Regions from separate parts of the Homo sapiens genome. Here region 1 is linked to region 2. Evidence: fine-mapped expression QTL. A gene starts in region 2. The other region holds a variant in brackets. All regions are shown on one strand. Distances are from middle to middle.

The links. PIP is the estimated chance that this variant, and not a neighbour inherited with it, causes the effect.
Region 1: its variant is fine-mapped to the expression of P2RX5-TAX1BP3 in whole blood (INTERVAL, PIP 0.95).

The regions. Positions count from the first base shown.
Region 1 is chr17:3,667,426-3,681,822 of GRCh38, reverse strand. It overlaps P2RX5 (purinergic receptor P2X 5), which reads left to right. Exons shown (of 12, transcript NM_002561.4): 11 at 2,039-2,233; 12 at 7,946-8,596. The coding sequence ends at 7,955. It overlaps P2RX5-TAX1BP3 (P2RX5-TAX1BP3 readthrough (NMD candidate)), which reads left to right. Exons shown (of 15, transcript NR_037928.1): 11 at 2,039-2,233; 12 at 9,330-12,765. TAX1BP3 (Tax1 binding protein 3) reads left to right here and starts at 13,245. Exons shown (of 4, transcript NM_014604.4): 1 at 13,245-13,335. The coding sequence starts at 13,297. It overlaps EMC6 (ER membrane protein complex subunit 6), which reads right to left and starts at 13,011. Exons shown (of 2, transcript NM_031298.4): 1 at 12,924-13,011; 2 at 12,158-12,725. The coding sequence starts at 12,676. The coding sequence ends at 12,344. RefSeq lists enhancers at 11,795-12,325, 12,326-12,856, 13,389-13,919, 13,920-14,397 and a silencer at 12,958-13,297. The variant G/A (reference allele first, on the strand shown) is at 7,971.
Region 2 is chr17:3,690,708-3,705,104 of GRCh38, reverse strand. It overlaps P2RX5-TAX1BP3 (P2RX5-TAX1BP3 readthrough (NMD candidate)), which reads left to right and starts at 8,701. Exons shown (of 15, transcript NR_037928.1): 1 at 8,701-9,236; 2 at 13,311-13,461; 3 at 14,078-14,149. P2RX5 (purinergic receptor P2X 5) reads left to right here and starts at 8,950. Exons shown (of 12, transcript NM_002561.4): 1 at 8,950-9,236; 2 at 13,311-13,461; 3 at 14,078-14,149. The coding sequence starts at 9,100. RefSeq lists silencers at 2,643-2,843, 8,721-9,080 and enhancers at 9,201-9,250, 9,363-9,879, 10,850-10,899, 11,300-11,349.

The DNA.
Region 1 (14,397 bases), 23 kb after region 2:
TGATGTGATATTGATGGCTGGGGTGGGAGGCAGGGGCTGGAGGGCCCGGGGAGGAGAAGTGTTCTGAGTACATGCTCTACAGAACCGGATTCGGCCTCGGCAGCAGTGGGAGGAGAGGGCGCTGTGGGCCACAGGGCGGGAGACGGAGTTCACAGGCTCCGCCTGATTCTGGACAAGTCCCAGGCCTCCCCGGGCCTCGGTTTCTCTATCTGGGAGATGAGAGAGTTGGTTTACCAATCGAGTGGTGTCTGCAGCACTTCTGTTTTGGGATTCTTGGACTTGGTGGTCCTGGTGCGCCGGGGCTGAGGGAAGCTGGAGTAGTAAAGGAAAGAAAAGCGGATATTTTCTTCCATGCAGAGGCTGTTTCCGGAGTTTCCTGGGCCCTGGGTTCGGTGGGGTGTGCGTGTTCACAGCGGCAGAGCACAGCGTGGGTGGGGAACCCTGATGACTGTGGGAGGGCGGGAAGGGGAAGGGGCTGTGGCTTCGGCCTTTGGGGAAGGCCTTCTGGAGAAGCAGGGATCAGAATGGGAATTGGGACAGACACCTTAGTACTCCCTCAGCACCCCCACAGCCTGGGACAGTGGGTGCAGGGTCTGCCTGGGTCATTCGCCTTACTGCACTCCAGCTATGGCCTGAACCCCAGCCCTGGGTTATAGCCGTGCGCCCTGACCCTGGCCACAGGCTGAACCCCAACCACAGTCCTGACTGTGCTGCTGAAGGAAGCAGGGTAGAGGAAGCCGGGTGGAGGACGCTGGGTGGAGGATGCAGGGTGGAGGACGCTGGGTGGAGGACGCAGGGTGGAGGATGCAGGGTGGAGGATGCAGGGTGGAGGACACTGGGTGGAGGATGCAGGGTGGAGGACGCTGGGTGGAGGACGCAGGGTGGAGGATGCAGGGTGGAGGATGCAGGGTGGAGGACGCTGGGTGGAGGATGCAGGGTGGAGGACACTGGGTGGAGGACTCAGGGTGGAGGATGCAGGGTGGAGGACGCTGGGTGGAGGATGCAGGGTGGAGGATGCAGGGTGGAGGATGCAGGGTGGAGGACACTGGGTGGAGGATGCAGGGTGGAGGACGCTGGGTGGAGGACGCAGGGTGGAGGATGCAGGGTGGAGGATGCAGGGTGGAGGACCCAGGATGGAGGAAGCAGGGTGGTGGCCTGCAGGGTGGAGGACCCAGGATGGAGGAAGCAGGGTGGTGGCCTGCAGGGTGGAGGACCCAGGATGGAGGAAGCAGGGTAGAGGAAGCCGGGTGGAGGAAGCAGGGTGGAGGACGCCGGGTGGAGGACGCTGGGTGGAGGACGCAGGGTGGAGGATGCAGGGTGGAGGACACTGGGTGGAGGATGCAGGGTGGAGGACACTGGGTGGAGGACTCAGGGTGGAGGATGCAGGGTGGAGGATGCAGGGTGGAGGACGCTGGGTGGAGGATGCAGGGTGGAGGATGCAGGGTGGAGGACGCAGGGTGGAGGACACTGGGTGGAGGACGCAGGGTGGAGGATGCAGGGTGGAGGATGCAGGGTGGAGGACACTGGGTGGAGGATGCAGGGTGGAGGACACTGGGTGGAGGATGCAGGGTGGAGGACGCTGGGTGGAGGACGCAGGGTGGAGGATGCAGGGTGGAGGATGCAGGGTGGAGGACGCAGGGTGGAGGATGCAGGGTGGAGGACACCGGATGGAGGACTCAGGGTGGAGGATGCAGGGTGGAGGATGCAGGGTGGAGGACGCTGGGTGGAGGACGTAGGATGGAGGAAGCCAGGTGGAGGATGCAGGGTGGAGGATGTAGGGTGGAGGGAGCTGGGTGGAGGACTCAGGGTGGAGGACGCCACGTGGAGGAAGCAGGGTGGAGGACTCAGGGTGGAGAGAGCAGGGTGGAGGATGCAGGGTGGAGGGAGCCGCATGGAGGAAGCAGGGTGGAGGACACCGGCTGGAGGAAGCAGGGTGGCGGCCTGCAGGGCGAGGGATTCTTCAAGGCCCACTCCGCCCGTCTAGGAGGGGAGGCACCCTGCAGGGCCGTCCCAGGTGAACAGCTTGTATCTTGTCCAGGGGCCTAGAAGACAGTTCCCAGGAGGCCGAGGACGAGGCATCGGGGCTGGGGCTATCTGAGCAGCTCACATCTGGGCCAGGGCTGCTGGGGATGCCGGAGCAGCAGGAGCTGCAGGAGCCACCCGAGGCGAAGCGTGGAAGCAGCAGTCAGAAGGGGAACGGATCTGTGTGCCCACAGCTCCTGGAGCCCCACAGGTGAGGCCACTGCTAGGCAGAGAGCCCGACAGCTGGGTCCTGCAGAGAGGGGTCCCCAGTTGGGGCTTCTCATGCCTGGCAGCTCCAGCGGACCCCTCTGCTCTGGTGTGAGCTGGCCACAAGGCAGGACATCTAGGAACTGGGAGAGCCTCTGTGGGAAGGGGCTGGTGCTTTACCCCGCAAGGTCCCCCTTAGCTCCCGAGACCCTGGATGGCCATGGGTGCCTGCTGTGCCATGCCGGCGCTCAGATGATAACAGCGCGCTGCTCCACAGCACTGACTCTCTGCCTGGAACCCCTCTGTACTCTCCGTATTTGTTAACTCATGTAAGCAACTGAATCAGATAGACACCGATCTTCCCCATTTTACAAATGAGGAAGCTGAGGCACAGAAAGGCTCGGTAATTTGCTCAAGTCACACAGCCGGTGAATGGCAGCGCTGAGATTTGAATCCCGGCAGTGTCTGTAGGATGAGGTTCTCCTGAGTTACTCTGCCTTTGCCGAACGTCTCTGTGCTCAGATGACCCCCCCTCAGCCCCTCTTCTGTGTGCGATTCTGGGGCTGCCCCGGCCTCAGGAGGGTGCTGGCCGTGCTGCCAGGGGGGTCCTTGGGCCGCGATTCCTGGGGGCGCTGGCTTCTCTGCAGACGAGGCTCAGCCTGCGTGGGGAGGGCGTCTGGCTGGGTGGGGGACCTGTCTCGGGCCTGCTCTGCGTCTGCCTTGCAGAGTACCTGTGCGGTGAGCAGGTGCCTGGCCCTTTCTGTGCCTTGTTTTCCCTTTTTTCCCCTCCCAGTGGGGGCTGGACACCTCCTGCTGTCAGACTGGGGTTCTGTGACTCTCTTGCAAACCACACCCCAGGTACTCACTGACCTTGGTGGCCTTTCTCCTGGCCCAGCTTTCATTCCTTGCTGACTCAGGAATTGGCAGCGTTCAGCTGGGAGCTGGGCCTGGGCAGGGAAGGAGCAAGAAATAGACTGGGCTGGAGAAGAGTGAGGAGAGAGAGAGGCAGGGGCTGCAGCAGTGGGGCAAGGAGGCTGGAGGCTAGGGGTCCGTATGGGGTAGACCCAGAGCCTGGCAGCCCTCCTGTGCTCCCTGAGCTGACTCTTACTTCCTGGGTGCTCACTTGAGCTCCCATTCTGAGCAAGCGGGAAGCCCGACGGCCTGGCTTGTCTTGGCTGAGCCTCGCTGAGGCTTGTGGGAGGCTGTGGACTCACAGGCCCACGCTCCAGCTGCCACCGCAATTGCTGCTACTCCTTGCCGGGGCAACTCCAGAGGCTTCTGCCTGAGCATCTATGCGTGCTGGGCTTCCGCAGGAACCCTGGCAGGCTGTGCTCTCTCTGAATGCTCTGCCTGCCTGCAGTGCTGCCAGGAGCGTTGCTGCCTCTGGTGAGGCTGGCCCACCCACCGGCTCCCGACAGTCCTCTCTGCCCTGTGCGCCCCCTCCCGCCCACACACAGGTCTGGCCATTTGCAGAATGCACAGGTGAATTTGGAGCAGCTGCAGACAGTGGAGATGTAGCCAGGGCTGCTGGCTACCAGCAGTGTCGCTGAAAACTTTGGGGCCAGAACAACCCGCAGCTCTGAACTGGGTAGAGGAGTCTGTGCCTGCATGAGACAGGGGCTTCCAGGCACAGCCATCTCTCCTGAACTTTGGGATCTTGCTGCAAGCTTTTTGCTGAGTGAGGAGGGGAGCCTCCCAATGGTCAGAGGGGCTCGGACCTAGAAGAGGAGTCCCTGGAGCAGGTGTCCAGGGAAAGGGACAGGCCAGGGTGCTGAGCGGAAGTGGAGTGTTTGGATTTTCCCTCAACCTGGCTGCACCTTCACTCATTCATATGAGCTGTAAACATGTATTGACGCATGCTGTGTGCTGGGCCCACCAAGAGGTGCTTAAATGAGATGCTGACCTAACCTCAGGGAGAGGGGCCCGCGTGTAATTCCTCCAAAGCCAACAGAGACATCACAGCCAGGCCCAGCCACTCCAGCTGGCCTTCCTCTAGCCTCTAGCAGGGTTTCCGAAATCCCTGCCGAGAATGATGGTTGCTCAGAGAAAGCTCTTGGACAACACCCAAGGGGACATTTGGGCTTGCCCCAAGGATAAAATTTAAAGGTGGCCATGGAGGCAACCAGGAAAGGACTGGAGCAGTCAGGAGGCAGCTGGCTCTTAGTGGGGAAGCCAGCTCCTGGGGAGTCTAGGTAAGATGGGGAAGGGGAGGCAAGAGGCCTCTGCTCCATCTGACTCCACCAGCCTCGGGACGCCCGGGGAATATGGACCTGCCCAGATGGGAGATACAGTCGCCTTGACCCTGCCGAGCTCCTGCCCTCCCCACCCCTCCTCAGAGGCTGGGCCTGAAGTGCTAATGAGATCAAGGATGGCGCCACTCAGCAGGTGTAAACGGGCTGAGTTAGGGAGGCCCTCATTCCCCTCCCTCCGTCCCCACCTGTCTTATGCCACGGCCACACCCACCTACCGCACCCTCAGCTGCTCTCTGCCTCCATCGCTGTAGGGCCTTGCTTTTTATTTATTTATTTTTTTGAAATAGAGTCTCGCTCTGTCACCCAGGCTGGAGTGCAGTGGCGTGATCTTGGCTTACTGGAACCTCCGCCTCCCAGGTTCAATCGATTCTCCTGTCTCAGCCTCCTAAGTAGCTGGGATTACAGGTGCCCACCACCATGCCCGGCTAATTTTTGTAGTTTTAGCAGAGATGGGGTTTCACCATGTTGGCCAGGCTGGTCTCCAACTCCTGACTTCAGGTGATCCGCCAGCCTTGGCCTCCCAAAGTGCTGGGATTACATGCGTGAGCCACCAAACCCGGCCAAGCCTTGCTATTTAAAGTGGGGTCCAGGGACCGGAGCCTGCTAGAAATGCAGGTCCCAGCTCCCCCGCCCCCCACCCAAATCAGAACCTGTGTTTCAACAAGATTCCAAGGTGATCTGTGTGCACAGTGACATTTAAGAAGCCCTGGTTCTCAGGGGAAAAAGGCCAGCTTTGGTGGATGGAGCCAATTTCTAGGTCAGACTTACACGCATGCTGCCTAGAGACCAAGAGGCTTCCTCCCCCACCCTGAAAGCAGCAGTATGCTCAGCTGATTTAAGTTACAATATTTTGACTGGGTAATACTTACATGATTCAAAGTTTAGAAGGTGCAAAGGATAGTCAGTGAAAAGCAACCTCCGTCCTCCCGGTTCCCCAGAGGCAGCCAGTGTTACTAATGCAGGAGGCTCCCTGATTTTGCCGAAAACTCGTGTGGTTTCTTACACATTCACTCAGGTAATGAACTTCTCCTGACGCTGGCGCTTAAGACCCAGTCTCCCCTGTCAAAAATGGACATGAAGTACGTTTCGATGTTGGGCTTGGGAGCTGACTAGCTCTCTTCTCCTACCCCGTTGTATGTGAGTTGTCTCCCCGTAAACCCAAGGTGAGAAACCTGGAGCTCAGCCCTCGCCATTGCCCGAGCCACCTGGCAGAAAAGTGCTCCAGCGCCGCCCTCACTCAACCAGTCCCAGTGCTGTCTGGGCGGCTCCCTGGAAGCATCCTCTTTGGAGGGGTTCTCTCTGCACACAGAAAGGCGGGGGTGGTGAGAGCATCCCTCCACTGAGGCTTTGGAGAGGGATGTCAGGGGCCCAGGGACATGGTCTCCAGAACAGGAACCCTCCTAGAGCAAAGCAACTTCCTCGCTTTGGGTTTTCTGGGAAGGGAACCTGCAACAAGCCTATACTGCTCTCTGATTAGAAAGTAAAGATCCAGGCTGGGCGCAGTGGCTCACACCTGTAATCCCAGCACTTTGGGAGGCCGAGGCGGGTGGATCACGAGGTCAGGAGTTCGAGACCAGCCTGGCCAATATGGCAAAACCCCATCTCTACTAAAAATACAAAAATTAGCCGGGCATGGTGTCCACATGCCTGTAGTCCCAGCTACTCGGGAGGCGGAGGCAGGAGAATCGCTTGAACCTGGGAGGCAGAGGTTGCAGTGAGCTGAGATCATACCACTGCACTCTGGCCTGGGCGACAGTGAGACTCAGTCTCAAAAAAAAAAAAAGAAAGTGAAGATCCAGGTGATCCACTTAGGTGTGTCACTTCTTCACTGACGCAAAGCCTTGCATTTTTATAACTTGGTGACTTTTAGGTTTGGGAGGAAGCAAAAAAGGCAGGGGTCATGGCTGCTGATTTTAACCAGACTTCGAAATGGCTGGCAGAAGCCACAGAACCTGAGGATAGTCATACTATTTGTTTCATATTGCAACAAAAATGTCTTCCTAGCCGGGCACGGTGGCTCACGCCTGTAATCCTAGCACTTTGGGAGGCCGAGGCGGGCAGATTGCCTGAGTTCAGGAGTTTGAGAACAGCCTGGGCAACATGGTGAAACCCTGTCTCTACTAAAATACAAAAAAATAGCTGGGCGTGGCGGCGTGCACTTGTAGTCCCAGCTACTCAGGAGGCTGAGGCAGGAGAATTGCTTGAACCCGGGAGACGGAGGTTGCAGTGATCCAAGATCGTGCCACTGCACTCCAGCCTGGGCGACGGAGCGAGACTCCGTCTCTAGAAAAAGGAAAATGTCTTCCTACAGTTAGTCATTCCTTCAGCCAGGAAATATTTATGGAGTCCCTGTGACATGTCAGGTGTTGGACCAGATGCTGCTGAGACAGAGATGAGCAACACAGACACGATCCCTGCCCCCGAGGGTTTCCAGTCTAATGGGGCATTGAACCCTTACCAAATGATCACACCCGTCATCACAGACGGAATGGGGTGTCGGAGAGGTCAGCGAGTAGTAGCCAGAGAAGGTTTCCCCAAGGAAGTGACCTATGAGTTGAAATCTGAAAGGTTATAGCAGCCTAACTAGGTGAGGGGGAAGCATTCCAGGTAAGAGAAGCACAGGTGTGAAGAGACGCTTTGATATGGGAAGGAGCAACGGAGAACCTGGGTGAAGGCGGCAGACAGGAGCCAGGTTTGGTGAGGCTTTTGTTTAATGAAGTTGACGGTCTTTAGCTGCAAGGTTGCCCCTTTAGACTTTGCTTCCTTAGAGGATTTAACCTCATTGTTTCTTCAAGGCCGGCCAAGCCTTCCAGTGACCTCTTGACTGCCCATCAGGGGCCCCGTGCTCAGAAGAGCCAGGGATCGCCTGACAGCTTCCAGACAGTGTCACACTCTTCCAGTTTCCTTGCTTTTTGCACAGCCCCCAGCTCCCACCATTTTTCTGCATAATCTTGGTGCAAGAGTGGGAGCTCATTACTCTGATGGAAACTGGCTTTTTTTTTTGTATTTTTTTTTTTTAATTTTTTGAGACGGAGTCTCGCTTTATCGCCCAGGCTGGATGGGAGTGCCGTGGCGCGATCTCGGCTCACTGCAAGCTCCGCCTCCCGGGTTCACGCCATTCCCCTGCCTGAGCCTCCCGAGTAGCTGGGACTACAGGCGCTCGCCTCGCCCGGCTAATTTTTTGTATTTTTAGTAGAGACGGGGTTTCACTGTGTTAATCAGGATGGTCTCGATCTCCTGACCTCGTGATCCGCCCACCTCGGCCTCCCAAAGTGCTGCGATTACAGGCATGGGCATGAGCCACCGCGCCTGGCCGGAAACTGGCTTTTAAATGGGGAGAAGTGAAGCATGAACTGTAGCTCTTTTCAGACTTGGGAAGGCCCTTCTCCCTGGGCACTGGTTGCCTCACTGGGAAGATGAGAGTGCCAGCCTCTCAAGAGCTCCTTTCTGTTCTGATATTCCAGGAGCACGTGAATTGCCTCTGCTTAC[G/A]TTCAGGCCCTGTCCTAAACCCAGCCGTCTAGCACCCAGTGATCCCATGCCTTTGGGAATCCCAGGATGCTGCCCAACGGGAAATTTGTACATTGGGTGCTATCAATGCCACATCACAGGGACCAGCCATCACAGAGCAAAGTGACCTCCACGTCTGATGCTGGGGTCATCAGGACGGACCCATCATGGCTGTCTTTTTGCCCCACCCCCTGCCGTCAGTTCTTCCTTTCTCCGTGGCTGGCTTCCCGCACTAGGGAACGGGTTGTAAATGGGGAACATGACTTCCTTCCGGAGTCCTTGAGCACCTCAGCTAAGGACCGCAGTGCCCTGTAGAGTTCCTAGATTACCTCACTGGGAATAGCATTGTGCGTGTCCGGAAAAGGGCTCCATTTGGTTCCAGCCCACTCCCCTCTGCAAGTGCCGCAGCTTCCCTCAGAGCATACTCTCCAGTGGATCCAAGTACTCTCTCTCCTAAAGACACCACCTTCCTGCCAGCTGTTTGCCCTTAGGCCAGTACACAGAATTAAAGTGGGGGAGATGGCAGACGCTTTCTGGGACCTGCCCAAGATATGTATTCTCTGACACTCTTATTTGGTCATAAAACAATAAATGGTGTCAATTTCAAACGTGTCCTGATTTTTTTCTCTTCATGTTTACCCATCTTTTTTTTTGAGATGGAGTCTCGCTCTGTAGCCCAGGCTGGAGTGCAGTGGCACGACCTCGGCTCATTGCAGCTTCTGCCTCCCAGGCTCAAGTGATTCTTCTGCCTCAGCCTCCTGAGTAGCGGGGATTACAGGCGTGCACCACCATGCACGGCTAATTTTTTTTGTATTTTTAGTAGAGACGGGGTTTCACCATGTTGGTCAGGCTGGTCTTGAACTCCTGACCTTGTGATCCGCCCACCTCAGCCTCCCAAAGTACTGGGATTACAGGCAACAGCCACCGCACCTGGCCCATTTTTACCCGTATTTTAAAGGAAAATGTAAGAAGGCAAGATCAAAAGAGGCAGACACAAGAAACAATTAGTAAGCAATATATTCCTCATCTTGCAAAGAAATTCAAATTATGGAAATGCTTTAAATGAGCAACTATTAAAATTATAGACTAGGAAGGAACTGATAAAACTGGTACTTTTCATTCAAGTAGTGTAATCTAACACAACTCTGGAAGTAACTTGGAACCAAATTTTTATCCTCTGCTGTAGGAACTTATTAATTTTCTCAAAACAATATAAACGCAGACATTCATTGCAGTATTTTTTATAGTAGTGAACATTTCAAACTTACTGCCCAACAATAGGGAAATGGTTAAGTACATCAGCTCGCTTATCCCTCTTCCTTTTTTCTCCTCTCCCACCAGGCTGAGGACTCCCTCTGCTTCTCCCTTACACCAGGAATGAACCTTTCCTTCCCACTCAGAGGAGGTTCTGAGAGGACTGAGGTGGGCAAACCACTGAGGATCTTCAGTGGGGGCAGAGAAAGGGCTCACTGAGATGGGGGGCAACGCTATGGCCTCAGCTTCTCCTTGGCGTCGTGTGCATGTGTTCCTGAAGCCGAAACGGAATTTAACAGGTCTGGGTCCCAGATCCATTTCCATGACTGGCCATGGGCTATCTATGATCTGTCAAAAGGGGACTTGGATTCAAGCTCTCAGATCCCCTTCCAATCTAAAACAGATTCTTTTTTTAAAAAAAATCCAAATGTGATTACGTCACTTCAGACTAAAAACTTCCAAAGGCTTCCCCCATTTGCTCTGAGGATCAAGGCCAGGGCAAATGGGAGCTCACTGCAGCCTCAACCTCCTGGGCTCAAGTGATCTTGATCTTCCCATTCCAGCCTCCTGAGTAGCTGGACTACAGGCGCATGTCCCCACACCCATTACTGCCCTCCATGATCTGGTCTGGGTCTACCCTGTGGCCTCTTCTCTCACTCTCTAAATACAGTCACATTCCTTCCTGCCCAATGGCCTGGAAACATGCGCTTTCCTGAAGGTAACTCCTTCCCCACACTTGCCTATGTTATTCAACTTTTGGGTTTCAGATGTAATGTTATTTCCTCAGAGAAGACTTCCTTGACCTCCATATACCCCAACTTGGGCTAGGTCTGCTATGTCCTCTTCATAGTACTCACCATGATTTAAGTATTTCTGAAGTTAGGTGATGCTGGTTTCCCCAGTTAACCATAAATCCAATGAGCACCATCATTTTCATTACTGTAATTTCTTTTTTTTTTAGACAGGGTCTCGCTGTTGCCTAGGTTGGAGTGTAGTGGCAAAATCGTGGCTTACTGTGGCCTCAACCTCCCGGGCCCAGGTGATCCTGATCCTCCCACCTCAGCCTCCTGAGTAGCTGGGACTACAGGCACATGCCACCACATCTGGCTAATTAAATGTTTTTTTGTAGAGATGGGCATCTCACTATGTTGCCCAGGCTGGTCTTGATCTCCTGGGCTCAAGCCTTGGCCTCCCAAAGTGCTGAGATCACAGCAGGAGCCACTACACTCAGGCAATTACCGTCATTCTAATGCAATATTTATTCCTCAATTAAACAAATGCATTTTATTCTTTTTTTTTTGAGAGGGAGTTTCGCTCTTGTTGCCCAGGCCGGAGTGCAATGGCATGATCTCGGCTCACCGCAACCTCTGCCTCCCAGGTTCAAGAGATTCTCCTGCCTCAGCCTTCCTAGTAGCTGGGATTACAGGCCTGTGCCACCACACCCGGCTAATTTTGTATTTTTAGTAGAGATGGGGTTTCTCCATGTTGGTCAGGCTGGTCTCGAACTCCTGACCTCAGGTGATCTGCCCACCTCGGCCTCCCAAAGTGCTGGGATTACAGGCATGAGCCACCGTGCTCGGCCACAAATGCGTTTTATTCTAAAATAACCCTCCTGACAAGAAAGGATCATGGATTAACACATGGAGGTGTTTACACCCTAAACCTGCCCAAAGTTCAACTTCAATGTCCAAACAATTTTTGTGTTTTTTTTGAGATGGAATCTTGCTGTCACCCAGGCTGGAGTGCAGTGGTATGATCTTGGCTCACTGCAACCTCCACCTCCAGGGTTCAAGCGATTCTCCTACCTCAGCCACCCAAGTAGCTGGGATTACAGGTGCCCACCACCACGCCTGGCTAATTTTTGCATCTTATTTTTAGTAGAGATGGGGTTTCGCCATGTTGGCCAGGCTTGTCTCAAACTCCTGACCTCAGGTGATCTGCCTGCCGTCGGACTCCCAAAGTGCTAGGATTACAGGCGTGAGCCACTGTGCCCAGCCTAAATGTCCAAACAATGTTTAATCTTCCCTAGACATATTCTAAAAAATACAGCTTGACTTTATTTTTTCTTATGGAAAGGACTGTCACTAAATGAAATGGAACTAAAATGACACCATATATACCTGAAAGTAGTGGTTAGTGGGAGGGAACGCTGGCCTGTGAAAGGTACACCCAGCAAACATATCAAGAGCAAATTAAGAGACCTGCATTTGAATCCTGGCTCTGTCTCTTCCTAGCTGTATCTCCTCTGGGAGAAGTATTTAACCTCTCTGAGCCTCAGGTTCCTTACGAGGGAGCTAACAATAACATCTACCCTGTAAGGTTATTGCTAAAATTAAATGAGAGGATCGGTGTAGAGTAGAAGTCACAATGCCAGCATATAGGGAACTCTTTTTTTTTTTTTTTTCCCTGAGAGACAGACGGAGTCTTGCTCCATCACCCAGGCTGGAATGCAGTGGCACGATCTCGGCTCGCTGCAACCTCTGCCTCCAGGGTTCAAGCGATTCTCTTTCCTCAGCCTCCCGAGTACCTGGCATTGCAGGCGCGCGCCACCACACCCGGCTAATATTTATATTTTTAGTAGAGACGGAGTTTTGCCATGTTGGCCAGGTTGGTCTTGAACTCCTGACCTCAGGTGATCCGCCCACCTCGGCCTCCCAAAGTGCTGGGATTACAGACATGAGCCACCGTGCCCGGCCCAGGGAGCTCTTAATACATATTAACTGTTACTGCTTCTTAGGATGTTAATAAGTTCTTTCCTTATGTAGGCCCTTAGGGCCCGTTTCTGAATGGCCTATGTGTAAATACAAGGACTTAACACAAGGCTATGGCCCATTCCTTGCTCTCCAGGAGTCAAATCTCGGCGATTTTGCATCAGTGGCAGCCTAAGCGTTACAGCAGGAAAGAACTCCACAAAGTGTCTCACGCTTCATTTAATCTGAAGAATATTACAGGCTCTCCGTCTTCAGATATAAATTATTTATAACGTTACAGAACAAGCAGCGAATTCAACCACTTAAGAACTAAGGAAGTCTACATGGTGTTAATTGCTGGCCACAGTCCTCCCGATCTGGTTTTTTAAAAAAGTCCCCCGGGCCCCCATTTCAGTAGACGTGCACCATGCCGTAGAGGAACGTCCAGAACAGGACGTAGGTGAAGAGGCCCCCGATGAGGCCTCCTGTAAAGAGAGGTCTCCGTGATTTGAAATATTTGTTCCACCTCCTTCCCGCCTTGAGAATGAGGAGCAGGGAGAGCAGGACGGAGGCGAGCAGGTAGAAGATGAAGCCGTAGAGGCCGGTGAGGCCGAGGATGCCGGCCGTGGCCCCCGACAGCGCTGACACCGAGGTCCGGCAATAATCCAGGACGGCGGCGTTGCCCCGCACGGCCGCCTCGCTGATGAACGGCGGCCCTTCCCGCTTGGCCACCACCGCGGCCATCGCACCAGCCCGGGCTCGGCCTCTCGCTTTCTCGCGGAACAACGCGGAGCTGCGGAGAAAACCAAGTTACAAGTGGCGCCCGGAGCTCGGTGAGTTGGGTTCACGCCGCCCCCTCCCCCTGGAGCTTCCGAGACCTGGCACCAGTCCTGGGCCTCGGATCTTCCAAAGACGCCGAGGAGATTGAGGGTCCGGGCCGGCCGGGAGGTGGTGGCGCGTCTGCGTTCCCCGGCCACGGTGGCCCAGTTACCTGGAACACGGCGCCGGACACACTACTTAGCGTTCCCTCAGACGGGCAGTGGAAGAAATGCCCGCGGCGCCATCTTGCTCGGAAGACTGCCGGGAGGTCTCGGGCTGCGCACGCGCCCAGATCCCGCCCCGCCCTCCGCGCCTGCGCCGTGGGCGCCCCGGACACGCTCCGCCCTCTGCCCGCTTTTCTGCGCACGCGCAGGGACTTCCGAAAGCGGAGTGGCGCTCCGGCCAGTGATTGGCTGGAGGTTTGTTAACTATTCATGAGGGGGCGGGCCGAGCGGGGCGGCCTTTGTTAAGCAGCGAGGGCGCGACCGCGGGTACTCTGCTGCCGGCTTCTCGGAGCGGCGCTGGGCGACCAGAGCAGGGTCGAGATGTCCTACATCCCGGGCCAGCCGGTCACCGCCGTGGTGGTGAGTGCGCTTGCGCGGGCTCCTCCTCGTCTTGGCCTGACCCCACCTCGCAGAGCGGGAAACGGACACCCCAAGCAGGTTGACAGAGCATCGAACCCGGGGCTCCTGCGAACCGGCGGCAAGGGCTCGGGTCCCCGCTTTGCCGGAGCGGGCCGCAGTTCCCCCAGCCACGAAACAGGGATGGCCGGGACCCGAGAGCCTCCCGAGACCCTGGACAGAGCCCAGACTGCGTGCGCAGGGCGGGGAGGGCCACGGGGAAAGGCCTGGCTGCAGGAGCCTGGAAAAGCGCCCCCTTCCCGGGCCTCCGTGTCCCCAGACGGGGAGCTGCTGGGGGCGGGCGCCGATCCCGACGTCCATGAGTCGCAGCCTCTGGAATGAGGAAATGCTTCCTCCGCTGCAGCCTGCGCCGCCGCCCGGAGGGAGATCTGGGGGTGGGGCTCTCCCGAGCCTGCCGTGGCAGCCCCTGCCCCCTTCCTGTCCAGCCTTGCTCCTCCAACCCACTCGCCGCCTGGTCCAGGGTGGACGCTCGTATAGCTGCGATGAGCGTTTCCTCTTCGAACTTTTCCTGGGTCTCCAGCCCTTAAGGCAAAAAAGTCCAGGCCTCCCTCCTGGCACTTGAGTCCTGAGTAGACCCTCCGGGGGCTAGCCTAGGCCCCTGGCCGCCCTCTGGCTTGTTTTAGGTGCTGGGTGCTATTAGACTAGGCAGAGGGAGGAAGGAAGGCTGGGACGTTAGACTCAGACGCCGGTGTCACAGAGGGACACAACCCTATGACAGAGGTGGGGAGTCCCAGAGAGAAGTGCTCAGCCAGAAAAGACCACCTCAGGAAAGACTCAGGTCTCCTGCCTACCTCCCGACAGCGTTCAGAGAATGAGAAGAAATGCCTGCCCGGTGGGCAGTAGGTCAAGCGAAAGTCCCCGCCCTGGAGCCATAGGGACTGGGTGTGTTATCTCAGTTGGGTGTGCTGGAGAAGCTCCAGCAATCAGGTGGGTGGAGGCAGAGAAGCCACTGATAAAGGCGACAAGTGAGGCTGAGCTTAGAGCACTGGCTCAGGCCTGGGCCAG
Region 2 (14,397 bases):
ACAAGATGTGCGTAGCTCTAAGAGGTACCGTGGTAGACTTGTCACTGCTTTGTGGATTTGGTTGACTCGAGTTTGATTCTTTATCCTCTCTTTTTTTGAGACGAGAGTTTTGCTCTTGTTGTCCAGGCTGTAGTACAATGGCATGATCTCCGCTCACCGCAACCTCTGTCTCCCAGGTTCAAGCGATTCTCCTGCCTCAGCCTCCCGAGTAGCTGGGATTCCAGGCACGCATCATCACACCCAGCTAATTTTGTATTTTTAGTAGAGACAGGTTTTCTCCATGATGGTCAGGCTGGTCTCGAACTCCTGACCTCAGGTGATCCGTCCACCTCGGCCTTCCAAAGTGCCGGGATTACAGGTGTGAGCCACCACACCCGGCCTGAATCTTTATCCTTTTTAGTGCCCAGTGGACTAGCATTTGGCTCTTTACTCTTTCAAGTGTTTACTGTCTCAGTGGAATTTTCCTCAGTTCAAATATTGGGCGCTGGGTACTGAGTACCAACCCATCAATTACGGTGGGTCACACAAGGTGCTGATGGGCACGGAAGTGCCTCCCACAGAGAGGAGTGTCCTGCCTTCTGTTGACTGCATTTACATGGCGTTAATAATGCATCTGCCATTTAAGTGGATCAGTAATGTCTATTAATGGGATATGTCCGTCATGGAAGGACCTCAGCAAAAGGAAAAGGGCGAGTTGCCTTGGGAGGCTCTTGGTGAAACTCTTCCCGTACCACCCCTGCCCACTCTTGTCTCTCTGGGCCACCCAGCTCCTCAGGACTCGGCAGGAAGGCTGGGTCTGCAGCTGGCCCCCTTATCGCGGAATGACCTTCTGTGCCCCAGGAGAGATTCAAATCTCCTCCTTCCAGGCCTTCCTGCTCCTTTGAGGTGGGAAATAGAATTCACCATAAGGAAGTAACATCTGAACCTCTACTCCAAGAACCATATGATTTTATGGGATTTGGGTTTTGTGTGGTTTTTTGGGTTTTGTTTGTTTGTTTTTTTGAGGCAGAGTTTTGCTCTTGTTGCCGAGGCTGGAGTGCAATGGCGTCATCTCAGCTCACCACAACCTCTGCCTCCTGGGTTCAAGCAATTCTCCTGCCTCAGCCTCCCGAGTAGCTGGGATTACAGGCATGTGCCACCACGTCCGGCTACTTTTTTGTATTTTTAGTAGAGATGGGGTTTCTCCATGTTGGTCAGGCTGGTCTCGAACTCCTGACCTCAGGTGATCCACCCACCTCGGCCTCCCAAAGTGCTGGGATTACAGGCGTGAGCCACCATGCCCGGCTGGGGTTTTTAAATGTTGTTTATTTTCTGTTTTGTTTCCTTTAATTTTGTGGGGAATGTTTTTTGGGTTTGTTGGAATCTCAGGCTAAGGGGGAGGTGTTATTTCACCCTCACCAGAGCTGGAGGGGAAGAGAGAACCCACGTGTCTTCAGAGGCTGCAGGGGTGACCAAGGGACACCTCCAAGCTGCTGCTGGGAACAGTGATGCTGTTGGCAACTCTCCTGCAGCTGACATTTTTCCTCTTGGAAGCACTTCATCCCATAGGGAAATGAGGAGTTTTCTTTTTCTTTTTTTTTAAAGTATCCCTCTGTGTCACCCAGGCTGAAGTGCAGTGCCATGATCTCAGCTCACTGCAGCCTCAATCTCCTGGGCTCAAGCAATCTTCCCACCTCAGCCTCCCAAGGAGCTGGGACCACAGGTACTTGCCACCATGCCCAGCTAATTTTTTAATGTTTTTTGTTTTGTTTTGTTTTTTTAGGTAGAAACAAGAGTCTCACTTCGTTGTCCACGCTGGTCTCTAACTCCTGGGGTCAAGTGATCCTCTCACCTCAGCCTCCCAAAGTGTTGGGATTGTAGGTGTGAGCCACTGGGCCTGGCCTCGTTTGTTGTTGAGTTTTTCTATTTGAGGAGTAATTCCCCTGTCTCTAAAGGCTCAGCCCATTGCACCATACATTCTCGCTTTTCATCTATAAAATGTGTAGAAGGAACAGATACTGGTGTGGGGAAAGCTTGGGATCAGAGGCAGGAGAGTCTGGTTTCCCCCAGGTGAGGCCCCCAGCACATTTCTTTGGAGGAGGGGAGGGCTCTGTCTGAGGCTCCCTCGTAGCTTTTACTGGATACATTTGGGAGTCCACCAGGATTTTATCAGAGACTGTCCCAGGTCTCAGAGCAGACCAGGATGTCCCAGAGTGGGTCCAGACCACAATAATAGACTTTAAAATGCTGGCAAGTCTTAGGAGCAAGGGAGATGATGTAAAAAGAAAATGGCAGGCTGGGTACAGTGGCTCACGCATATAGTCCCAATGTGTCTGGAACTGGTTCCTTCCGGTGGGTTCTTGGTCTCGCTGACTTCAAGCATGAAGCCATGGACCCTCGTGGTGAGTGTTACAGTTCTTAAAGATGGTGTGTCTGGAGTTTGTTCCTTCTGATGTTCTGATGTTCAGATGTGTCCAGAGTTTCTTCCTTCCAGTGGGTTCATGGTCTCGCTGACTTCAGGAGTGAAGCTTCAGACCTTCGCAGTGAGTGTTACAGCTTATCAAGGTAGTGTGGATCCAAAGAGTGAGCAGCAGCAAGATTTATTGTGAAGAGGGAAAGAACAAAACTTCCACAACGTGGAAGAGGACTCCAGCAGGTTGCCACTGCTGGCTTGGGTGGCCAGCTTTTATTCCATTATTTGGCCCCACCCACATCCTGCTGACTGGTCCATTTTATAGAGCGCTGATTGGTCCATTTTACAGAGCGCTGATTGGTCCATTTTACAGAGTGCTGGTTGGTGCGTTTACAATCTTTAGCTAGACATAGAATGCTGATTGGTGCGCTTTTACAGAGGGCTGATTGGTGTGTCTACAATCCTTTAGCTAGACACAAAGCACTGATTGGTGCATTTTTACACAGTGCTGATTGGTGCATTTACAATCCTTTAGCTAGACACAGAGTACTGATTGGTGCGTTTTTACAGAGTGCTGATTGGTGCATTTACAATCCTTTACCTAGACAGAAAAGCTCTCCAAGTCTTCACTCGACCCAGGAAGTCCAGCTGGCTTGATCTCTCACCAGCACTTTGGGAGGCCCAGGTGGGTGGATCACTTGAGGCCAGGAGTTCGAGACCAGCCTAACCAACATGGTGAAACTCCGTCTCTACTAAAAATACGAAAAAATTACACACAAAAAAATTACTCACCGCCGGGCATGGTGGTGTGTGCCTGTAGTCCCAGCTATTTGGGAGGCTGAGGCAGGAGAATCACTTGAGCCGGGGAGGCAGAGGTTGCAGTGAGCTGAGATTGCACCACTGCACTCCAGCCTCGGAGACAGAGCAAGACTCTGTCTTAAAAAAAAAAAACAAAAAAAAAAAAAACAGAGAAAATGTCCCTTTAGAAGTTCCTTTTTTTTTTTTTTTTTTTTTTTCTGAGACAGAGTTTCACTCTTGCTGCCCAGGCTGGAGTGTGCAATGGTGTGAACTCTGCTCATCACAACCTCTGCTTCCTGGGTTCAAGTGATTCTCCTGCCTCAGCCTCCCAAGTAGCTGGGATTACAGGCATGCGCCACCATGACGGGCTAATTTTGTATTTTTAGTAGAGACGGGGTTTCTCCATATTGTTCAGGCTGGTCTCGAACTCCTGACCTCAGGTGATCCGCCCACCTTGGCCTCCCAAAGTGCTGGGATTACAGGCGTGAGCCATCACGCCCGGACTTAGAAGTTCATTTTATAGTTCTCATCACTTCACTGCAGGTACCTTAAATCATCCAACTAGACCAGAGGTGTCCAATCTTTTGACTTCCCTGGGTCACATTGGAAAAAGAATTGTCTTGGGCCACACGTAAATACACTCACACTAACAATAGCTGATGAGCTAAAAAAAACAAAAAATTGCAAAAAAAACCTCACAACGTTTTAACAAAGTTTGTGAATTTGTGTTGAGCCACATTCAAAGCCGTCCTTGTGCCTAGGGTTGGACAAGCTTGAACTAGACAAAGGCTTGTAAATCAGACAACAACGGAACAACAGTCACTGCTCATCCCGTCCTTTATTTCAGGTGAACAGGAAGGGATTATACTCATTACAGGGAAGCGTGATGTGGACTCCTGTGAGGGAGGAGAAGGAGGGGGGCCGTGGTGAGGCAGTGAGGGGGTTGTGACTGCTCTGAACACCAGCCATTCGCCCTGGGCCCCTGGCTGGGGTGAGGGGAGTTTCTGGGGAGGCCTCAGGAAGCTTCCAATCATGGTGGAAGACAGAGGAGGAGCTGGCATGTCACAGGATGAGAGGCAGCAGGAGAGAGAGGAGGAGGTACCAGGTTCTTTTAAACAACTAGCTCTCGCGTGAACTACCAGAGTGAGAATTCACTCATTATCCGGGAGATAGTGCCAAGCCATTCATAAAGAAGCCACATCTATGACCCTACACCGCCCACTAGGCCCCCTCCAACATGGGAGGTCACATTTCAACATGCGATTTGGAGGAACACACATCCAAACTGTATCACTCGAAAGCAGCAGGCATTTTTCTCTCAGTTGGAGAATTCATCTTGGTTTTGGAAATGTCCCTGACTTGGAATTTTTTTTTTTTTTTTCGAGCCAGAGTCTCACTCTGTCGCCCAGGCTGGAGTGCAGTGGCACAGTCTCGGCTTACTGCAAGCTCCGCCTCCCGAGTTCAAGCGATTCTCCTGCCTCAGCCTCCCAAGTAGCTGGGACTATAGGCGCGTGCCACCAGGCCCGGCTAATTTTTGTATTTTTCATAGAGAGGGGGTTTCACCATGTTGGTCAGGCTGGTCTCAAACTTCTGACCTCGTGATCTGCCTGCCTCGGCCTCCTAAAGTGCTGGGATTACAGGCGTGAGCCACACTGCCCGGCCCTGACTTGGACTTTTAATAAGGCAGGTGTAAAAAGCAAAGTCCTCATCTCCCCACTGGGCACAATGGGTGTTTGGCATGTGCTTGTGAGGGTGGTGAGTTGGCCTCAGCCATGGGGAGATAGAATGCAGATACTGGGGGCCACAGCTTGTAAGTGTTTTCCACATTATTTGGACTGTGACCCACAGGAAGAAGTATATTCCACATCACAATGCCATATGTGGACACTTAAAACAAAAGTTTCACATAACACCAATACTTCCTTAAATACACTAATTTTCTTTCTTTCTTTCTTTCTTTCTTTCTTTCTTTCTTTCTTTCTTTCTTTCTTTCTTTCCTTCCTTCCTTCCTTCCTTCCTTCCTTCCTTCCTTCCTTCCTTTCTTTCTTTCTTTCTTTCTTTTTTCTTTTTCTTTCTCTCTCTCTCTCTCTTTCTCTCTTTCTTTCTTTCTTAGATGGAGTATCACTCTGTCACCCAGGCTGGAGTGCAGTGGCGCGATCTTGGCTCACTGCAAGCTCCACCTCCTGGGTTCAAGCGATTCTCCTGTCTCAGCCTCCTGAGTAGCTGGGACTATAGGCGTGTGCCACCAGGCCTGGCTAATTTTTGTATTTTTCATAGAGAGGGGGTTTCACCATGTTGGTTAGGCTGGTCTCAAACTTTTGACCTCGTGATCTACCTGCCTCGGCCTCCCAAACTGCTGGGATGACAGGTGTGAGCCACTGCATCCGGCAATATTTTCTATTTATTTGCGATAATTGCTCACTACAGTGTTGAACTCCCAGGCTCAAGAGATCCTCCTACCTCAGCCTCCTGAGCAGCTAGGACTACAGGTGTGCACCATCCCACCTGGTCAATTTTTTTTAAGAAGCAGGGTCTCTATCATACAGGCTGGAGTGCAGTGGTGCAATAATGGCTCACTGCAGCCTCAACCCACCTGGGCTCAGGTGATCCTCCTGCCTCAGCCTCCCAAGCAGCTGGGACCACAAGTGTGCACGACCACATCCAGCTAATTTTTTATTTTTTGTATAGAAGGGGTCTCCCTATGTTGCCCAGGCTGGTCTTGAACTCCTGGGCTCAAGCAATCCTCCTGCCTTGGCCTCCCAAGGTGCTAGGATTAAAGGCATGAGCCACTGTGCCTGACTTGGCTAGTTATATATATAGGTGTGTGTGTGTGTGTGTGTGTGTGTGTGTGTGTGTGTGTGTCTGTCTATATATATAGACAAAGTTTTGCTATGTTGCCCAGGCTGGTCTTGAACTCCTGGGCTCAAGCGGTTCTGCTGCTTCAGCCTCCCAAAGTGCTGGGATTACAGGCATGAGCGCCTGTGCCCAACCTATTTTTTTTAATGCTGGTTGTCGCCCAGTAATTTGATGTCATGCCTCACCAGTGGGTCTGGATCTAGTCTCTGAAGCTGTGCAGTAAGGGACCCCGTAAGGATGGGCCTGGTCCTGTCCCCGAGAGCCCTGTCCCCTCTAGATGCCCCTCATGTGGTCTCTAAAGCTTCAGGACAGTTCCGTCAGAAGTTGCAGCCTGGTCTTGGCTGTGCCGTGGGGAGTTCAGGAGGGGCTGCCTGTACTGGAGGGGAAGTCAGAGCAGAGCCCTTCTCTAAAGCCACAGTGGCAGTTAAGACAGGACATGGAGGGCAAGTGCCTGGCAGTTCAGCCTCTCCAGTAGCACACAAAGGTTTGATGAATCAAGAACAGCAGAGTGCCTGGGACTGGGGCTAGTGGTAGGCTCTGCTCTGGGGCCTCACTTACTCACCCCTTCCCTAATCACCCCAGAAAAATGAAGGTCCTGGTCTCTAAAGACCCCTTCAAAGAACAAACAGGCCCTGGAACAAAACCTGGAACTCCCTTGGGGAGTGGAGAGACTCAATGTGGCACCATCTCTGTGACACTCATGTTGTCCTGTGCTGGGGTTGATGGGCAAGCTCTTCTCCAGGGCAGATGCAATTCAGGCGACTCCTGTGAGACTCTGAAAGTCCACCTCCCCTCTATACCTTACCCTGGAGCAGCACTGTCAGGGTGACGGGCATCTTCTTAGGGGTGATGTCACTCGGTGGCGGCTGCTTTAGTGAGCATTGGAGTGCTGTGTTAGCAGGGGGCTGAGGAGGAGGCTGGCAGGAGAGCCAAGATGACTTCAGCCCCTAAAATTCGCAGTCATGACTGGGGCAGGGTGGAATCGAAATGCCCTCCCTGTTGAAAAAAAAAAAAATCAGGGCCAGGTTTGTCCACTCATTCAATAATATGTCTAGAACTATTATGTGGCAGGCACAGGGACATACAGAGATGTCCAAAGGCATGGTCCCTGCTCTCCGGGAGCTTCTGGTCTTAGCATGGGACACAGTCACTAAGTCAACGAGATCCTACTGGATAGTGACAGGTGCTCTAAGGGAATAAGATGAGATAATGGGATAGAAAGTGGCTGGGCTGGGACTGGGGGCTACTTTGGGTGGGCAATAATAACAGGCCTTTTTGAAGAAATGGCAGTTGAGTTGAAATGGATGAAAAGATGCAAAGATCCACGCTTTCCCAAATGACAGTTTGAGAGCAAAATACAGGTTCCCAGCCCCATCTTAGATTTCGTGAATGAAAATTTGAGGGGCAGGGCCTAGGAATTTGCCTTTTTTTCTTCCACATGATTCCCATGCACTTTGAAACTGGACACCTTCCTTGGGGCTTTTACTTTAGAATCACACTGATGAATTTCAGGGTACCTTCCAGTTCCCCGAGTCTGTGGCTTAGGGAAGGGAGCCTCTTTGTGTGTGAAAGCCAGGGGTAGGGAGAGGAGCAGGACTGCTTGTGGTCAGACTGCAGGATGCAGAAAATAAGCGTGCGCAGCTCCTCACCACACCGCGCTCACCCAGGGCCCTGCGTCTTTGGCTGTCAGGAGTTCTAAACCTGCCCCCCCGGAGGCCCTCCCTCATCCCACTCCCACTCCTGTTGAATTCCACATACTGAGAGGGTTGCAGTCATAGCTGCATGGATCAGTTCTATTTCTTGTGCGTTGGGAACCATTCCAAACAGTTGGTACATGCGCACTCTCCAGGCATATTTTTAGGATCCTAGGGTGGGTTGCCTGTGTCTCCCCGCCCCCACCCCGTCTGCCCCCCACCCCCGCACCATCCGCCCTGAGTGTGGGAGGGAGGTCTTCATGCTGCCGGCACTCGGGACCTGCCTGACCACCGACTCCGCCGGAGTGTGGGCTTTTAAACCTGCAGCAGCTGCTGCAGTAGAAACGCGCATTAGTCGCAGCAGACACAGGCAGCCTCAGGTGGGACAAGTCTTGTCTCTTCCAGCCTGTGGGGGAGCCACGGCTTCCCCCCCACAACCACCCCCTGCCCACGGAGCAAGAATGTATCTCCCTGGCAGGAGACCTGGCGCGAGGTGAATGGAGAAACCTGTTGTGTCCCCTTCCTTCCTCCCCTGGCCTCAGTTCCCCATCTATTCAATAGGAAGAACCCTTTGGGATTTCTTTGCGAGAGAAAGGGGAGTTTTGCTTTAAACGGAGCTCTTCCCGGCCGTGCGCGGTGGCTCACGCCTGTAATCCCAGCACTTTGGGAGGCCGAGGTGGGCGGATCACCTGAGGTCAGGAGTTCAAGACCAGCCTGGCCAACATGGTGAAACCCCGTCTCTACTAAAAATACAAAAATTATCACGCCTGTAGTCCCAGCTACTTGGGAGGCTGAGGCAGGAGAATCGCTTGAACCCGGGAGGCGGAGGTAGCAGTGAGCTGAGATCGCACCACTGCACTCCAGCCTCGGCGACAGAGCGAGGCTCCGTCTCAAAAATAAATGAATAAATAAATTTAAAATAAAATAAAAAGGAGCCCTTCCCCCTTTCACTTCCTCTCCTCCGCGATCGCTGCTTTCAGCTGGGCAACAGCACAGGGCGGTCCTGCGCATCCGGGGGGCTGCGCTCCCAGACCGGTGGCTGGGGAGTAGGTTGCAGGGGTGTCACTGTGTCAGGGGAGGAGGAGGAGGAGGAGGAAGAAGAGGTAGCGGCAAGGTCGCGGTCTGAGGTTCCGGTGCTCGCCGCCGCCCAGCTCCCAGCCGAGGCTTTCTCAACCGCGTCAATAAAAGGCCGCCCCGACCCGCCCCCGCGCCCCGCAGCCCTGCCGGACACCCCGGGCTGCAGCTGAGCGGGCGCAGACGGGCCGAGGCGGGCGCCGGGCGCGCAGGGACCGAGGGACCGAGTGCTCCCCATGAGCGCACGTGGGCCGGGCGGTCCGCAAGCCCGGCTGAGAGCGCGCCATGGGGCAGGCGGGCTGCAAGGGGCTCTGCCTGTCGCTGTTCGACTACAAGACCGAGAAGTATGTCATCGCCAAGAACAAGAAGGTGGGCCTGCTGTACCGGCTGCTGCAGGCCTCCATCCTGGCGTACCTGGTCGTGTAAGTTCTCCGCGGACTTTTGGGAAGGCGGGGGAGGGGCAGGGCGGGTGCCAGCCGCCGCGTCCTTCTCCAGGGTCCTGGAATTCGCAGGCGTGCACGCGGTTTTCCCGGTAGCTGGGGGTCTGTGAGCCTGCTTGCTGTGGGGGTCCTCTTTGGGTCCTTGGGTGTAGGAGTAGGGTGTAGAGAGGGGGCTCTCCACTCCCCCACTGGCGCTAGAGGTGATGAGAGGTGGGCAGGGGCCTTCTGGTTTCCTCGATTTATCAGGCTTTCCCTGCAGCTGCTTCTCCCAGAGTCGGGTCCCCACGTGTTAGGGCCATGGGAAGGGGGCAGGGATGCCAGGGGGCTGGGTGGCAGCTGTCGCCCCAGGAGCCTCCCTGGGCCTTGGCCTGGCAGCTGACCCAGGCGCCGGCAGGTTATTTATAATCACAGGGTGTCACTGCCTACTCAGAGCTGGAGAAACTCATCAGCCCGGCATGTTCCTGAGCTCCCTTCCGGTCAACTTGCCCCACCCGCGGCCAGCCTCTCTGGTGTCCAGCTGGGGGTCCTGCCCAGAGGCCTCTATCTCTGCACCCAGCTCGGCCATCCCCTTCCCCCATCCTCATGCCACCTGGCAGGAGCTGGCGCCACAAAGCCAAAGAGGCAACTTGTGGAGGCTGCTCTGCCAGGCGCCTTCAGAGCCCTGACCCCGGGGTGGGTCGGGGGTGAGCAGGTGGAGGGGAGAAGCAGCGCTGGACAATGGGGATGCGCCTCATTCCACTCGTTCAGTAAATGCGGTGGAGTTCCTCCTGCTTCCTCCTGGGAGGGCAGCCCTGACGCCTGGCTCTCCCTCGGAGGTCCAGCAGTCCGCGTTCTCTGAGCTGCATCCCCAGGCCCCTGGCCGCCTCCCACCTGAGCGGCCTCGTAGGCGCTGTGCTGTTGCTCAGCCAGGCCTGCCCGTCCTCCTCCACTCCCTTAGCATCCACTCAGCCCCCAGATCTGGGCTTTCCAGTAACTCCCTCTCCCTTCCTCCCTGGCCTTCCCACAGTGTAATTATTGGGCTTATTTGGGGGATCATTTGCCTGATGTCGCTGTCAGTCCGGGAATGCCCTGAGGGTGGGGCCCCAGCAGCACTTAACTGCTTAGGGAATAGATGTGAAATGAACGCATGAATGAATAAATGGAGTTGCTTTTGCTTGAACAATAGAAATTTAATTCTCGCAGTCCTGGATGTGGAAATCTGAGACGAGGGTGGTAGCATGGTTCGGGGTCTCAGGGGGGGCTCTCTCCTTGGCTTGCAGATGGCCACCCTCTCGCTGTGTCCTCACATGGCAGGGAAAGCAGGACATATTTAACTAAGTACAAGTATGAAAATTAGGAAATTGGCGGCCGGGCGCTGTGGCTCATGCCTATAATCCCAGCCCTTTGGGAAGCCGAGGTGGGTGGATCACCTGAGGTCAGGAGTTCGAGACCAGCCTGGCCAACATGGAGAAACCCTGTTTCTACTAAAAATACACAACAATTAGCTGGGCATGATAGTGGCGCCTGTAATCCCAGCTAATCGGGAGGCTGAGGCAGGAGAATCTGTCTCTATGGATTTGCCTATTCTGGGTATTTCGTATAAATGAAATTGTATAGTATGCGGCCTTTTTTTTTTTTTTTCTGGCTTCTTTCACTTGGTGTCATGTTTTCAAGGTTCACCCATGTTGTGGCATCTATCAGCCCTCCATTCCTCTCTGTGGCTGATACTATCCTGCCGTGTGGGGCTGCCACATTGTGGTCATGCATTCATCAGCTGATGGACATTTGGGTGGTTTTCACACCGCTGAGTGTAGTGGCTCATGCCTGTAACCCCAGCACTTTGGGAGAGGAGACCGCGGTGGCTGGATCACTTGAGGTCAGGAGTTCAAGGCTAGCCTGACCAACGTGGTAAAACCCCGTCTCTACTAAAAATTCAAAAATTGGCTGGGTGTGGTGGCGAGCGCATGTAATCTCAGCTACTCGCACCAGTGCACTCCAGCAGCCTGGGCAGCAGAGCAAGACTGTCTCAAAAAAAAAAAAAGAAGAAGAATGCTTCTGAGAACATTCATGTACAAGTTTTTTGTGAACATGTTTTCAATTTTTCAATTTTTAATTATTATTATTATTATTTTTGAGATGGAGTTTCGCTCTTGTTGCCCAGGCTGGAGTGCAATGGCATGATCTCAGCTCACTACAACCTCTGCCTCCTGGGTTCAAGAGATTCTCCTGCCTCAGCCTCTGGATTAACTGGGATTACAGGCATGGGCCACCATGCCTGGCTAATTTTTGTATTTTTTTAGTAGACACGGAGTTTCACCATGTTGGTCAGGCTGGCCTCGAACTCCTGACCTCAGGTGATCCACCTGCCTTGGCCTCCCAAAGTGCTGGGATGACAGGCGGGAGCCACTGTGCCTGGCCATGTTCTCAATCTCTTGGGAATTTTCTGGCTTATCTGGTAACTCGATCCTTAACCTTTTGAGGAACTGCTAAACTGTTTTCTACCATAACTACCTCATTTTACATCCCTATCAGTGATATACGGGGGTTCTAATTTCTTCACAACCTCATCAACACCTGTTATCTGTAGGGTTTTTAAAAAATGATAGCCATCCTAGTGGAAGTGAAGTGGTGTTTTATTGTGGTTTTGATTTGTATTTCCCTAATGACCAATGGTGTTTGTCATCTTTTCATATGCTTAATTGGGCATTTGTGTATCTCTCTCTCTCTTTTTTTTTTTTTTTTTTGAGAAATGTCTATTCAAATCCTTTGCTCATTTTTAAATTGGATTATTTGGCTTTTTATTGTTAAATTATAAGAGTTTTTTGTATCTTCTGGATACTAAACCCTTACCAGCTACATTATTTCAAATGTTTTCTCCCATTCTGTGGGTTGTCTTTTCACTTTCTTGAGAGTGTCTTTTGATGCATGAACATTTTAAATTTTTATGAAGTCCAACTTACCTATTTTTTCTTTTATTGCTTGCGTTTTTAGTGTCAACAAGTATGGGATTTGTACTCTTATTTCATTTTTTTGTTGTTGTTTTTGAGGCTGGGTCTCACCCTGTCACCTGGGCACAATCATGGCTCACTGCAGCCTCGACCTCCCAGGCTCGAGGGATCCTCCCACCTCAGCCTCCCGAGTAGCTGGGACGACAGGCTGGTGCCACCATGCCTAGATTACTTTTTTGTTTTTCATAGAGATGGGGTCTCACTGTGTTGCCCCGGCTGGTCTCAAACTCCTGGGCTCAAGCGATCCTCCTGCCTTGGTCTCCCAAAGTGCTAGGAGTACAGGCGCGAGCCACCGTGCCTGGCCTGTACTCTTATTTTGTAGAATGCCCCTCAGTTTGGGTTTGTTTGAGGTCTCCTCGTGATTGGTTTCAGGTTAGGCACCATCACAACCCCAGAGGGAGGCGCTGTCACCCCATGTTATGTATGGGAAATTGGCTTGCCTGGGGTCACCAAACCAGTATGTGGCTTCAGCCCAGGCTTGTCCACTTGGGGCCTCTGAGTGGACAGTGGTCTTTGCCTCTTTTATTTATTTATTTATTTATTTTTTGAGACAGAATCTCACTCTGTCGCCCAGGCTGGAGTGCAGTGGTGCGATCTCTGCTTACTGCAAGCTCTGCCTCCCGGGTTCACGCCATTCTCCTGCCTCAGCCTCCTGAGTAGCTGGGACTACAGGCGCCCACCACCACGCCTGGCTAATTTTTTGTATTTTTTTTTTTTTTTTTGAGTAGAGACAGGGTTTCACTGTGTTAGCCAGGATGGTCTCAATCTCCTGACCTTGCGATCTGCCTGCCTCGGATTATAGGCGTGAGCCACTGCGCCCGGCTGGTCTTTGCCTCTTCAGGGCCCCCATCTCTAGGGTTGCTTGTCGCCTCTGCTGCTTGCAGGACTGGGTTTCAGTCAGCAGTGGGAGCTGTGGCCCCTGCCCAGGAGCTGGTGGGACAGGTGGAGCCCTGAGCCTGCTCCACCTCAACTAGGAGTTGCTGTGACTGCTACCCCACCCCAAGGCCTGGGGAAGCTCCCCGAAGCCAGCAGAGTGGCTGATGCCCACGTACCGGCCCCCTTCCCACAGATGGGTGTTCCTGATAAAGAAGGGTTACCAAGACGTCGACACCTCCCTGCAGAGTGCTGTCATCACCAAAGTCAAGGGCGTGGCCTTCACCAACACCTCGGATCTTGGGCAGCGGATCTGGGATGTCGCCGACTACGTCATTCCAGCCCAGGTCTGAGTCCCCACCTAGCACACGGCCAAGGCTGGCAGGGACTGCCTGGTTCGGGTGGGTCACACGGGAAGCTTCTTGGATACGCAGGGACCCCCATCCATCATCTCTCTTGGCCCAAGACAGCTGCCAGGGCTTGCAGAGAGCAACCCTGTCCAGATCCTACCTCCCATGCCAAACCCCTGCCCTCTTTGACTGTGCCGCGGGTGACTGCTCTGTTCTATCTGAGTCTGCTGAGAACAAATGGGACCCAGAGAACTTTCAGGTCATTGTGAGTCAGGTGGGCTGGCACAGAGAACCCCCCTTCTAAGTCACTGCCTCTGGGAATAGCTCTCCAGCCTGTTCACAGTTGGCCAGGGCCAGGGCAGCCTGAGCCCTGCGCCCACTTCTCCCGGATCCTGGGGCAGTTGGGGTTTGTGAGTCTGGAGGAGATCTATCAATGGACATCTACCTGGGGACTGTGGGGTCCATGAGCAGATGGGCAGAGTATACCAAGTTTGTGGCCCCATTATCCCCAAAACCCAGGCAGAGGGACCGCCCTCTTTCAGGTAACGCTGGAAAGGTGGGGTGGTCCCTAAGGGGCAGGAGGAGGTTCCTCAGTGCCTCTCTGGTTCCTTAGGGAGAGAACGTCTTTTTTGTGGTCACCAACCTGATTGTGACCCCCAACCAGCGGCAGAACGTCTGTGCTGAGGTTTGATTTGGCGAGGGGCCCTGGCGTGGGGGTGGGAGAGCCACCGGCAGTGGTTGGGGTCTACTCTCTTCTGAAGCAAGGGTGTCTGTCCACTCCAAGGGTCTCGGGTGGCTGTGTGCACCCGGGTGTGGTTCCTGCATTATATGGGGGAGAAGTAGGTTCTCAGAGTGTGTGTGGGCCAGGCCGAAGAAGAACCCCTATTCTATCTCCTGGAGTGGGACCCGGCTCTGAGCTGGGGGAACCCCCCC